2 separate regions of the Homo sapiens genome follow, and region 1 is linked to region 2. The links come from fine-mapping of genetic effects on gene expression. Tissue or cell type: CD4 T cells. Region 2 holds a variant in brackets; the other region holds the start of a gene. All regions are shown on one strand. Distances are between the middles of the regions.

Region 1 (5,148 bases), 970 kb before region 2:
CACCTGTAGTCCCAGCTACTTGGGAGGTCGGGGCAAGAGAATGGCTTAAGCCCAGGAGTTCAAGGTTACAGTGAACTGTGATCGTGCCACTGCATTCCAGCCTGGGCAACAGAGCAAGACCCTGTGTCTAAAAAAATTTTAAATAAAAAGTTAAACCAGGAGTATAGGTAACATGATCTTAGACAAAGGCCACTACCTCATCTCCAAAAGCCAGGCAGTGGCCCCAGGAAAGTGCCCTGGTCAAGTCCTCCCCTTCACAGGCAAGCCAGGCTGGTTTGGAACAAAAGGCAGAAGCTTTTCCTCCTATTTCTATTTTCCTATTTCTCCTGATCTTGACCCTGCCCAGGAATCCGAACTGCCAAGTAGACGCCCTCCATCCCTCCCATTTATTCTGTCATCCACCCACACCCTGGCTTTCTTGCAGCCAGAGAGCTTCTTCCTGCAAGCACCAGCTGTTGAGCAGGACTGTGACAAAGAGCAACAAAGAGCCACAAAGAGCAGGCTGCGGGCGGGACCATCGGGACCATCACAGAGGCATCAGCCCTGCCCCGGAGTGGCTGCAGATGCATCCCTGAGGGAGGGGGCTGGGGTGCAGGTGCTCCCTCCCGAACAGGGGGTTTGTTAGCTTCATCTGCAAGGCCCTGAAGCCAGGCTCTTTTCAAATCGTCATCATGTGTGCACCGTACACTCCCTTCTGACTCTGGGGGCCTGGGCGCCTGCTTAGTGCAGCCTTAAATTTTTTACGTACCAGTAAAAATACTGCATGTAAGATTCTGTTCCTAGGAGGATAAAGGGATGGCCAGAGCTGGCTAAGCGGAGTCTCGACGGACTAAAGGTATGGGAAAATGAAGACGTGGACCTACCACGTTCTCTTCTACCTGGAACTTAGGATTTGTAAATTGCATTTAGATGTCATTTGTCACATTGGTAGGCTGTGACTTAATACACTCACAAAGAGGATTTTTCCAAGTATTTAAACTGTGTAGATGCTGCAAAAAATCAGACTGAGGCAAAGCCCTGCAGCCAACCCCAGCAGCAAGAGGTGAGGACCCCCTGTCTGTCCTGGGCCCCACTCAGGCACTATCCTCATCTCTTAGAATAGTTTGTTACCTTTTCTTTCCTGAAGCCTCATCAAATGCAACTTTTTCTATGGCATTCAACGGACTTTAAAGCAAAGATTACAGAGAAATTCTTATGCAAGTCAGAAAATCTGCTTATTATGGGTTTGATAAACCAAATTGTGTTACCTGTTTATAGACATAGATTTCTATCAGCCAGACGTGTGCACAGCACAGCACAAACCATAGCCACCCCCGTCGAAGTCTCTTTCTGTGCATTTCCCAGCCACGCCCCCAGCTTGGGCCCCTGGGGTCACCTCCCACTCCGGCTAGAAAGAGAGAAGGAGACAGTGAATTCCTCGGAAGCCGCTCGCCCTGCACCCAAGCGGGACTTGCACCACAAGCAGCCCCAGGAAAAAACTCTCCATTTCTTTCTCGTGGAGGCTCCAGAAGAAAAGCTGCGCATTTACCCGGCGCATTCTAACCGCCTTTGAGGTTCCCTCCGGCAGCCATGGGAGCCGTGGTGGGGCAAAGCCTGGGCTGGGAGACGCTGCAAGGCTCTGGGGAGCAGTGAGGCGCCGCGCCAGCTCCTCCGTTCCCGTCATAGCCTCACACGGGCTTCGCTGGACACGTCCAGGACGCAGCGCCGGTGGGCACCAGGCGTTGAGCGCCTGCCCCGCGTCTGTGCTAAGACCTCCCTTTGCATTATTGCATTTATTCCAACGATGGGGTGAGGTAGGTATTCTTATTTCCATTGCCAGAGTGAAACACTGAGGCTCATCCAGGGGCCGGTGTGGAAATCAGGGCTCAGCCCTGGGCCCCTGCTGCTTGGAGCCGGTGCGGTGGCCACCGTGACCTCACGCTTTCCCTGCCAGTCGCTCTCCGCCGCATCCCGGCCTCCCGCCCCGCCCCCGGCCGCTTTCCAGGGACTGAAGCCCGAGTTGGTGCTGCGTGTCCCCGCGGGGATTATTTTCAAACAGCTCCTCCTGCCCTGGCTCCCACAGCGCGGCCCCAGGCAGCTGCACCACTTTCTCCTCTCACCAATTAAAGCCGAATCCAGGGCTCCTTAGCATATGAATTGAGGCGCATCGGAGCCCTCACTGCTGGGCCAGCCCCTCCCGGGCTCCTCCGGTTCCGGGAGGTCCACAGCCCAGCAGCAGCTGCCCCTGCACGTTGTCCCCTCCGTCCAGCATCCCGGGGCCGAGGAGACAGTGCCCCTGGCCGGGGGCTGCGCTGGCTTCAACTTCCCATGGGCAAAACGGGGTCCCGGGTCAGTGTTCACAGAGGGTCTCAAACCCTGCAGGACCCTGAAATTGTCTGGGATCCACACCAGTCGGAAGAAAAAAAGAATAGAAAACGCAGGGATTCACCTCCTCTGCAGGCACCCTCATGCCGAACACTAAACAGGATGATGTTGAAAAGGATTTGGAGATTTATGCAGGTCACGAGCTTGAGGAATTTTTCCATTGAATGCACCATGCCTTGGGTTTCCCGTTTCCCACTGAAAATCCCATGGCTGACACTTTTTTTATATCATTACCTTGGGAGATGAAGAAAAACTCATCTGTTAGGGCAGCTCTGTGAATGCAGATGCTTTGGGTTGTTTTGAATGAATGACTGAATGTTCTGAAATAAAGCAGGAAGGTGCCTGCGGGATAATGACTGGTTTCGCAACTCTTGGCCGGGAGTCTAGACCCCTCTGATAATCAATAGAAATGGATGTATATTAAATTTAGCAATAGAAAAAGTATAGATAGTTGAGTATGCTACATTATTTTCCTATAAATTAACCCGTTACCACAGTCTTTAATTATCTTCCCCTTGCGAGGCATAAAGAAGAGACTGCTTGAGGATGGAGGGTTTTTTGTGGTCTGAGGTCTGCAGACTGGCCAAGTATTCCAATATTAATTACCACCCATCCTGGCCGTAGGCTCACCCCGCTGACCTGAGCAGACCTGGTGAAGCAAGCCACAACTTCTGCTGGAAATTGCTCCACTCTTCCATTAAGTGAGGATTAGAAAGCCCTTTGTGAGAATTTTGCCCAGAGTCTAAGTTGAGCACTTTGTCACTTGCACGCTTCATTTTCCAGCATACCGTTCGCTCAGCTCAGTGTCTATCCAGGCACTGAAGGTTCGGATGCAAGCACTCTCCAGCGTAGGGGCTGACCAAGTGAAATGCACACTGAGCAACCGTGCAGCTCCAGGTCCTGGCGGCTCTTCACAACCAGACATTCTCCCTGGAGACCCTAAGCTCCTCTTCCTCTGTTGGGGGAGCACAAAATACCCTATAAGGGCTGCTTTGCTGCCTCTGGCACTTTCTTCATCAGGGGAGTTACATCCAGATGTAGCTGACAGGTCAGGGCCCCTTCTCCTCCACCATGTCTCAGGGTTATCTTTTCCAAATGGAGGAAGTCAAGGGTATGCAGGCGCTCCAGTTTCCCTGCCTTACCCTACATATCCATAACAGACTTCAACACGAGAACCAGCGTTTCGGATGTGTCTAGCAGAGTGCCAAAGTCAGGCTGGAGTGTGCCCTGAAAGTCAGGGCCTTCTGAGGGACACAGACACGGTTTGTCTCCAAGGGGGCTGTGTGTAAGGCAAATGCTGAGGCCTACAACCATGTGTTCTGAGACGGTGGCCATTACAGAAACAGGCAGTCCCCAGACAGAAGCACAAAGGGCAATCTCAAGGAATCAAGATCTGTAGGCAGGGACCCACACTGAACAATCTGGACAAAGCTAATGCAGAATGAACAGTACCGCCGCTACCCAGCGACAGTCGGGCTGATGTTCTAGGAGAACCACACGCTTCACACAGCAAGGGAGAAATTAGGCCGTATTTTAATCCCTTCCAGCTTCGTCCAGGAGGTGTTGTGATTTGAGTCACTCTCTTCCTCTAACTCCTAGCCCATCCGCAGTAATAAATAACTTTGCAGTGAATGGATGGTTTTCTTAGACCTGGGGGAACAATCCTAGTTTGATAAAGCAGCTCAGGAGCGTGAATGCTGAGGGGCCCGCCTATTAGCTGCCAAGCTCGGTAGCCAGGTCAGGCCCCACTGGAAGGGAAGGGGCAGTTGCCCAGGGTGCCTGAGGAGCAACCTGGCCCCTGTTCTCGGGTGGGAGAAGGAGCACCTGGCACTGACCAGCCCTGGAACTCCGCCTGCTCACTGGACATCACAGCACATGAGCGGGTGCTATGGATGGAATGTTTGAGTCCCCCAAAATTTGTATCTTGAAGCCCTATTTTCCAAGGTGCTGGTATTAGGAAGCGGGGCATTTAGGAGGTGATTAGGTCATGGGGGGCCTTGTGAATGGGATTAGTGCCCTGATAAGAACAGAGATGACCCATCTCTCAGCCATGTGAGGACACAGCAGAAGGTGCCATCCACACACCAGTCTGGAGCCCTCCCAGCCACGGAACTGCCTGGCACTTGGATGTGGGGGTTCCTGCGTCCCAGCCTCACAAGAACTGTGAGAAATCCATTTCTGTTGTTAAAACCACCCAGGCCATTGCATTTTTGTTACAGCAGCCTGAACTGACTAAAACAGCTTGAATAACAGAAATGGCAGGTTAAAAAAAAAAAATCACTGTTCCTGGGCTTGCTCTAGACTAAATAGTTGGGGGAACCTAGGGATTAGGGAAGAGTCTAGAGAAAAGCCGCAGTTCAACGCCTGCCCATCTCCTTGCTTCTAGTGAAGGGGCTCAAGGAATATGACGCTCTTATTTGGGAAGGAATTCTGGGTCATAGAAAAAAATGGGCGGGCCAGTCCAGGAAGCGTGGAGAGAAGACAGTGAAACTGCTCTGTCGAGAACTCAGGAAGTCCCCCAAGAGAGGACGGGGGAGGTGGGAGGTGTGGGGTAGGTGGAGTGAGCCCCAGGGAGGAAGACCACAGTGATCCTTGTGGCAGAAATCCAAACTGTGGGGGTAAAGGAACATGAAAGCAACAATTTCCCCTTATGTCCTGCCCGATGCTATATAGTTGCTTCACAGCAGCCTCTTCACACCAGCCTCTCATCTTCATACCTTCTCTGAGGGTCTTGCTCATGGTGGCTTTGTCAGGAGATGCTCTGGGGGAGGAGGAAGCAGAGCA
Region 2 (5,148 bases):
CGTGGTGGTGGGCAGGGGCCTTGTCTGCTGTTCCCGGCCTCATCATGGCCGTGGGGCAGCGGGGAGAGCTCCAGGTGAGCTCGGCACAAAATCACCTGGACGTAGGATGCACTCCTGCCTCTACCCCCCAGCAAGGTCAGAGTTCTCAGCACCATCCAAGCCTTCAGTCTCCCACTGAGTGTGACTTGGGCCTCAGTTTCTCCCTCAGACACTGATGTGCTGATTAGTTTCACCAGGCAGTCACGAGGCCACAGTGTGGTGCTGAGTGTCAGCTGCATGAGGGTGACATGCACACGGCCCCACGCGTAGATCAGACAGGAATGCTGTAGTCCTGCCTCTGTGAACCCCGTCACACATGTGACACTCCCTGGACCACACAGCTGGGACATGCTCTTTGAAGAGTGCTGGAGGAAAATCTGCGCTTGGAATAAAACAAAGAAGCACAGCATTTAATAAATGAGCATTTACTATGTAGAAGGAGTGGTCTGTTTCGGCTGGGGATGGAGCATTGAGATTGCGGTGCTTTTTAACTCTGGCAATGTCAGGATTTAAAGCGGAGTTTTCAAATTCAGCAAATGTTGGTAATCCAAAGCTGCCAAGTGTGAGAGCACACGTGTTTATGGACATGGCTTCGGGACCCCTCCGCCCTGGGAATTTCCCCTTTGTTTCTCTGATGCCTTTTCTTCAGCGGGGCTGCCACTCAGAGGCTCAACATCTTCCCTGCTTTTCTGTACCAGGTCGGTGTGTTTTAAACTGTGAGAATGAGTAGCCATGACATTTTATTTCTAGCTGTTTGTGAAAAGACCCAGCCAAATGCAGGTGCTGTTATTGGCACCCTCTTTCTCCCTCCCCAGCCAGATGAAAAGAGCTTTTTCTACCAGAAGACAGATGCCCCTTATTTGGTGTGCACACAATGGAACCTTCATCACAAGTCACCAGTGATGTTCAGGGTCAGGGAGAAACTACCTGGTACCCAGAGCTCTTTCCAGGCACCCAGCTATGCACAAAGAGAGGACCAATCAAATGTTGGGTCAATGTGAATGCCTTTCTTTTTTTTTTTTTTTTTTTTTTTGAGACAGAGTCTCGCTCTGTCTCCCAGGCTGGAGTGCAGTGGTACGATCGCAGCTCACTGCAACCTCCACCTCCCAGGTTCAAGTGATTCTCACACCTCAGCCTCCCAAGTAGCTGAGATTATAGGCATGTACCACCATGGCTGGCTAATTTTTGTAGTTTTAGTAGATATGGGGTTTCACTCTGTTGGCCAGACTGGTCTCAAACTCCTGACCTCAAGTGATCCACCCACCTCAGCCTCCCAAAGTGCTGGGATTACAGGCGTGAGCCACCAGACCCACAAGTGAATGCCTACTTACAAGTAAAGATAATTTAGAAAGAAAATTATAAACTATTTGCTTTTATATAGTTTGAAATAGTTTATAATCAATAAAGGAACTTAAAATCCTGGTTCCTAACATTCATCATAGAGTTAGTAAATGTAAAATTTTGTTAGTGTCAAGACAAAACTGGATTTAATCGCAAAGGAGAAATTCTCAGCGCCTTTCTTACAGATTTCTGGAGAAGGAGAGAAGGAGTCACAAAAACATCTTAGTAACATTATTTCCATTTCTCTCAACCCTTAGAAGCAATAAAAAGTCTCATTTTCTGTCCGTTTTTAACTCTGCAGTTAAAAATGTATTTCTTTTACCTTGGGGAAATGGCACAAAACTAGAGCACACTCAAACTTTTCTATGATACATTCTTAAAATGGGGAGGAAGTGAGCCTAAAACCCACGGGGAAGGGCCACTCAGACAGAGAAACCTCTGCCTTATTCCAGTGAAACTGGAGTTAGCGAGTTAGCACGGGACAGAGACTCCTCAGTTCACCTGAGTTCCTCTCCTCGGGCCTTTTCTCCCCTCAGGGCACCACACAGGCTTTGAGAATGCTCAGTTCCCGCCTTAAAATTCTGACCAAATCTTCAAAAATCCAACCCTGTGGGCTTTCTCCCAACCCACATGTGACAGCCCGGGCACAAGAGTGGAGATAGCATTTGACTGCCACCTCCACGAAGTGACCCCAAGGTGCCCAGCAGGTGTTCTCAGCAGACACGGCACATGTTCCTGGCCCAAACCGAGAGAAGCGGTTTCCCCCCAGGTCACCACGCAGGCCCCCAATGGGAGACGAGGACAGTCTTTTCTCAGGTGGCTGACCTGTCCCCCTCACATCAGGCCAGCAAAGGCATTCCCGGGGTCCCTGGCTGGCGAATTGGAGCACAGGCTGATTGCTTGACAGAAATGATTGGACTTCCAAGCCAGAGGAGCTAAAACTGTGAGTGGATACATAGACAATGATGATGGCGTGAATACCTGCGTGCACACACCACTCCTCAGAAGCATCTGAACAACTTAGAGAAGAAAGCTCCTTTGTCATCCATTCTTTTCTCCTCATTTCTCATCTATACCAGTTTCCTAAACATTGGAACTAAACATGAAACTAAGAGAACTGATTTTTAAGCCACTGCTAGATACTTAAAACCAGAGGAATGCGTCTCATTATCCCCAGACACTTCATGCCTGATGAGCTAATAATGTTACTTGCGTGTGAAATCTCTGGCCCCCGTCCGTACACCTGCTTCCCTCGTGTTCCCGATCCAGACCCTGCAGGCCTCACTGGCACAATCCAGACCCACGATTGTGCCAGTGTGTGGCTGCTGTTATCCAGTGGTCTCTTCTCTTGATCGGTGAGTGAGGAAACCACTCAGCTCCACTTTCTCCTGTGTTTGAGTTCCTTCAGGGGCAGTACTGGGTGTTCCAGGTTACGGGAAGGAAGCGAAAGTTAATT[C/T]GTGTCCAGACAGGAGGCGACTGAGGGAGCAGCTGGGAACTTGTATCCATTTGTATTTAAAAGACAAAGAGAAAAGAAGAAACTACATAAACTTACTGAAACAGGAATTTTTATACAAAAATGGTTTTTGTTTCTTAAAATAAGGACGTTTCATAGAAAGCACAGAACACATTCATTTTAAACGAGTGAAAGTCAAAAATGCTTTTAAAGCATCAGAATATTAACCCAGTTTCTGAAAAGTCCCTGGTCCATAGGCTGGGGTCTCAGGGACCCGCCAGTTCAGCCACTTTGTTGACTGGATGAGCTCTGGGGTTGAGAAGGGCTCAGGGCTTTGTAAGGTGCAGCACCTTTACTGTGGGGCAAAACCAGGATAGAACCCGGTGTTTCCACAGAAACCTCACAGATGTCAAGGACTTGGATTCTGCAGATCAGCTGGAGCACCTGAGGATACTTGGGCTAAGCTACTCCCTTCATTGTTTTGCCACAGATTGGATATAAATTGGTGAACTTATTCTGTTTCTAGCTTTGAAAAGAACAGTCTGGTTTTCTTTCTTGAATTGGCTTATTATTCCCCCCAGGAGCCTGGGCATAGGACACTGCCACATGGTGTGGACTTTGAGAGGGCCTGGCACGTCTAACCCAGGTGGGAGTGTGTATGGGGTAGCACCTTCGTGCTATGCCTCTGTTGACCTGAGACTTCTGAACTCAGTTCAATGGGTGGTTGGAGAACTTACTGTGAGTGGAACTGTCCCAAAATAAAGGGTGACTGGGTACATCGCTGAGCCTGCATGCGGCAGTTTTGACGCCAACCCTTCCATGACGCAGTATTTACAGGGGCCGTTAGACCCCACCGTGCAGGCGGCTAAGTGAGAAGAAGGCCGGGGGCGGAGTGTGCTAGAAAGGACCCACCAGAGCACCAGGCTCCTCATACAGGTTCTCAGCGGGCAGCTTCCCCAGCCTGAATCACACACCACAAAATGCCAGAGCAAAGGGTGGCTTTGCTATCAAGATGGGCCAGAGGAGTTACAGCAAGGGTTGGCAGGGGGCCAGCGCCCCTGCGAGGGACGAGGGTCTCTGCAGCCATCACCGTGCCGGACACAGCTGTCATGGGAGAAGCGGAATAGCTCCCTGTGGGCAACAGTGGGGAAATCCCAGCTGTTCTGGGGTCGTTTCTCTTTTACCTCAAGCCTCGTTGCTCCTCTCATGCGTTTGCTAGATCTGGGACATCTCAGGGTGATGAAATTTTCACTTCATGGTACTTCTGTGATTTCTCATGCAGTGAACATTCACTTTAACATAATGAAAGTTAGTTTTTTTCTTCTGATTGCTTGTAATCTTTCATTTTTGTTCGCCTTTTTTCTTCAGAAGTAGTTTTGAAGTACAGTCGTCCGTCATCAGTAACAAGCATTATTCCAGGTCCTGGGGTGACTGTGACATGGGACTGAGCAGGATTGATTTGCTGCTTCTTGTTTTAGAAGTACATAATGCTTTTTATGTTCAGTTTTTCTTTTTGCACTAAAGACTCCTGCAGCTTTTATATTATGTTAGTCATGTTTCGTGATGAACATCTATTATTTTCTCATTTGAAATATTGTGTTGCTTTATCTCATTTGGGGGAATATGATTAAATTAACAGCCAAAAAAAATCCCCCTGGGTGTGTCCCTATTACCACACCAAATATCCACATAATTCTTTCTTAAAGCTGTTCAGTACTGAGGATTATCTAAAACGCCTTTTCTCCCAGATAATAATATTCTTCTCCATCAAATCCATATTCCTCTCAGAATCTCTGGAGGCCAGTGGAGGACTGGAAATTCATAGAGAGCAGCCCTGGCAGGCAGGTGCCCGAGGTCCTGTGGGTCCCAGCCTCACCTGCCCCGGCGCCTGTCTCGTCGCCCTGGACAAGTTCTCCTGGACGGCTGGCCTGGCAGGGCTTCTGCCCACGTGTTCCCGAGCCTGTGCCCTGGAGGCATTTTCAGCCCTCCAAGTTGTTTTTCTCATTTCCCTTCCTGGTTAGTCCTGCAGCTGGGGAGCTCAGCCTTCTGTAGACCGGGAGGCCCCTCCCAGGGAGCCGAGGCCGGGTGGGCTGGGCAGCTTTGGAAGCACCGCGGCCAGCAGCCTCTGCAGCCTCAGGTCCTCTGCCTTTCTGAGGGGATGTTCGATGAGACTGTTACTTCTTTCTTGGAAAGTAGCATTTGCCCCGTGGCCGTGATGCTTTTTGCTATAGATTTTGATCTCCTTTTTCAGTTGTGTGCAAAGAGACTAACACAGACCTTTTTGCACTCTCAGAACCCCCCTGGTGAAGGCTGCA

Which allele goes with the higher level. Positions count from the first base shown, and alleles are read on the strand shown. Sizes are in standard deviations (SD) of each study's normalised expression.
In carriers of allele T in region 2, the expression in CD4 T cells of the gene that starts at base 2,411 in region 1 tends to be higher than with C alone (moderate effect, 0.47 SD a copy in Kasela 2017).

The links. PIP is the estimated chance that this variant, and not a neighbour inherited with it, causes the effect.
Region 1: it holds the start of LINC02538, and the variant in region 2 is fine-mapped to the expression of LINC02538 in CD4 T cells (Kasela 2017, PIP 0.95).

The regions. Positions count from the first base shown.
Region 1 is chr6:167,676,813-167,681,960 of GRCh38, forward strand. LINC02538 (long intergenic non-protein coding RNA 2538) reads right to left here and starts at 2,411. Exons shown (of 3, transcript NR_117091.1): 1 at 2,100-2,411; 2 at 1,248-1,387. It overlaps LINC02487 (long intergenic non-protein coding RNA 2487), which reads right to left. Exons shown (of 7, transcript NR_117092.2): 7 at 3,879-5,125. LOC124901465 (a long non-coding RNA gene) reads left to right here and starts at 1,420. Exons shown (of 2, transcript XR_007059883.1): 1 at 1,420-1,793.
Region 2 is chr6:168,643,596-168,648,743 of GRCh38, forward strand. The region is part of intron 9 of SMOC2 (SPARC related modular calcium binding 2); the gene reads left to right. Among named protein-coding and RNA genes, the nearest start is that of SMOC2, 200 kb to the left of the region's middle. The variant C/T (reference allele first, on the strand shown) is at 2,837.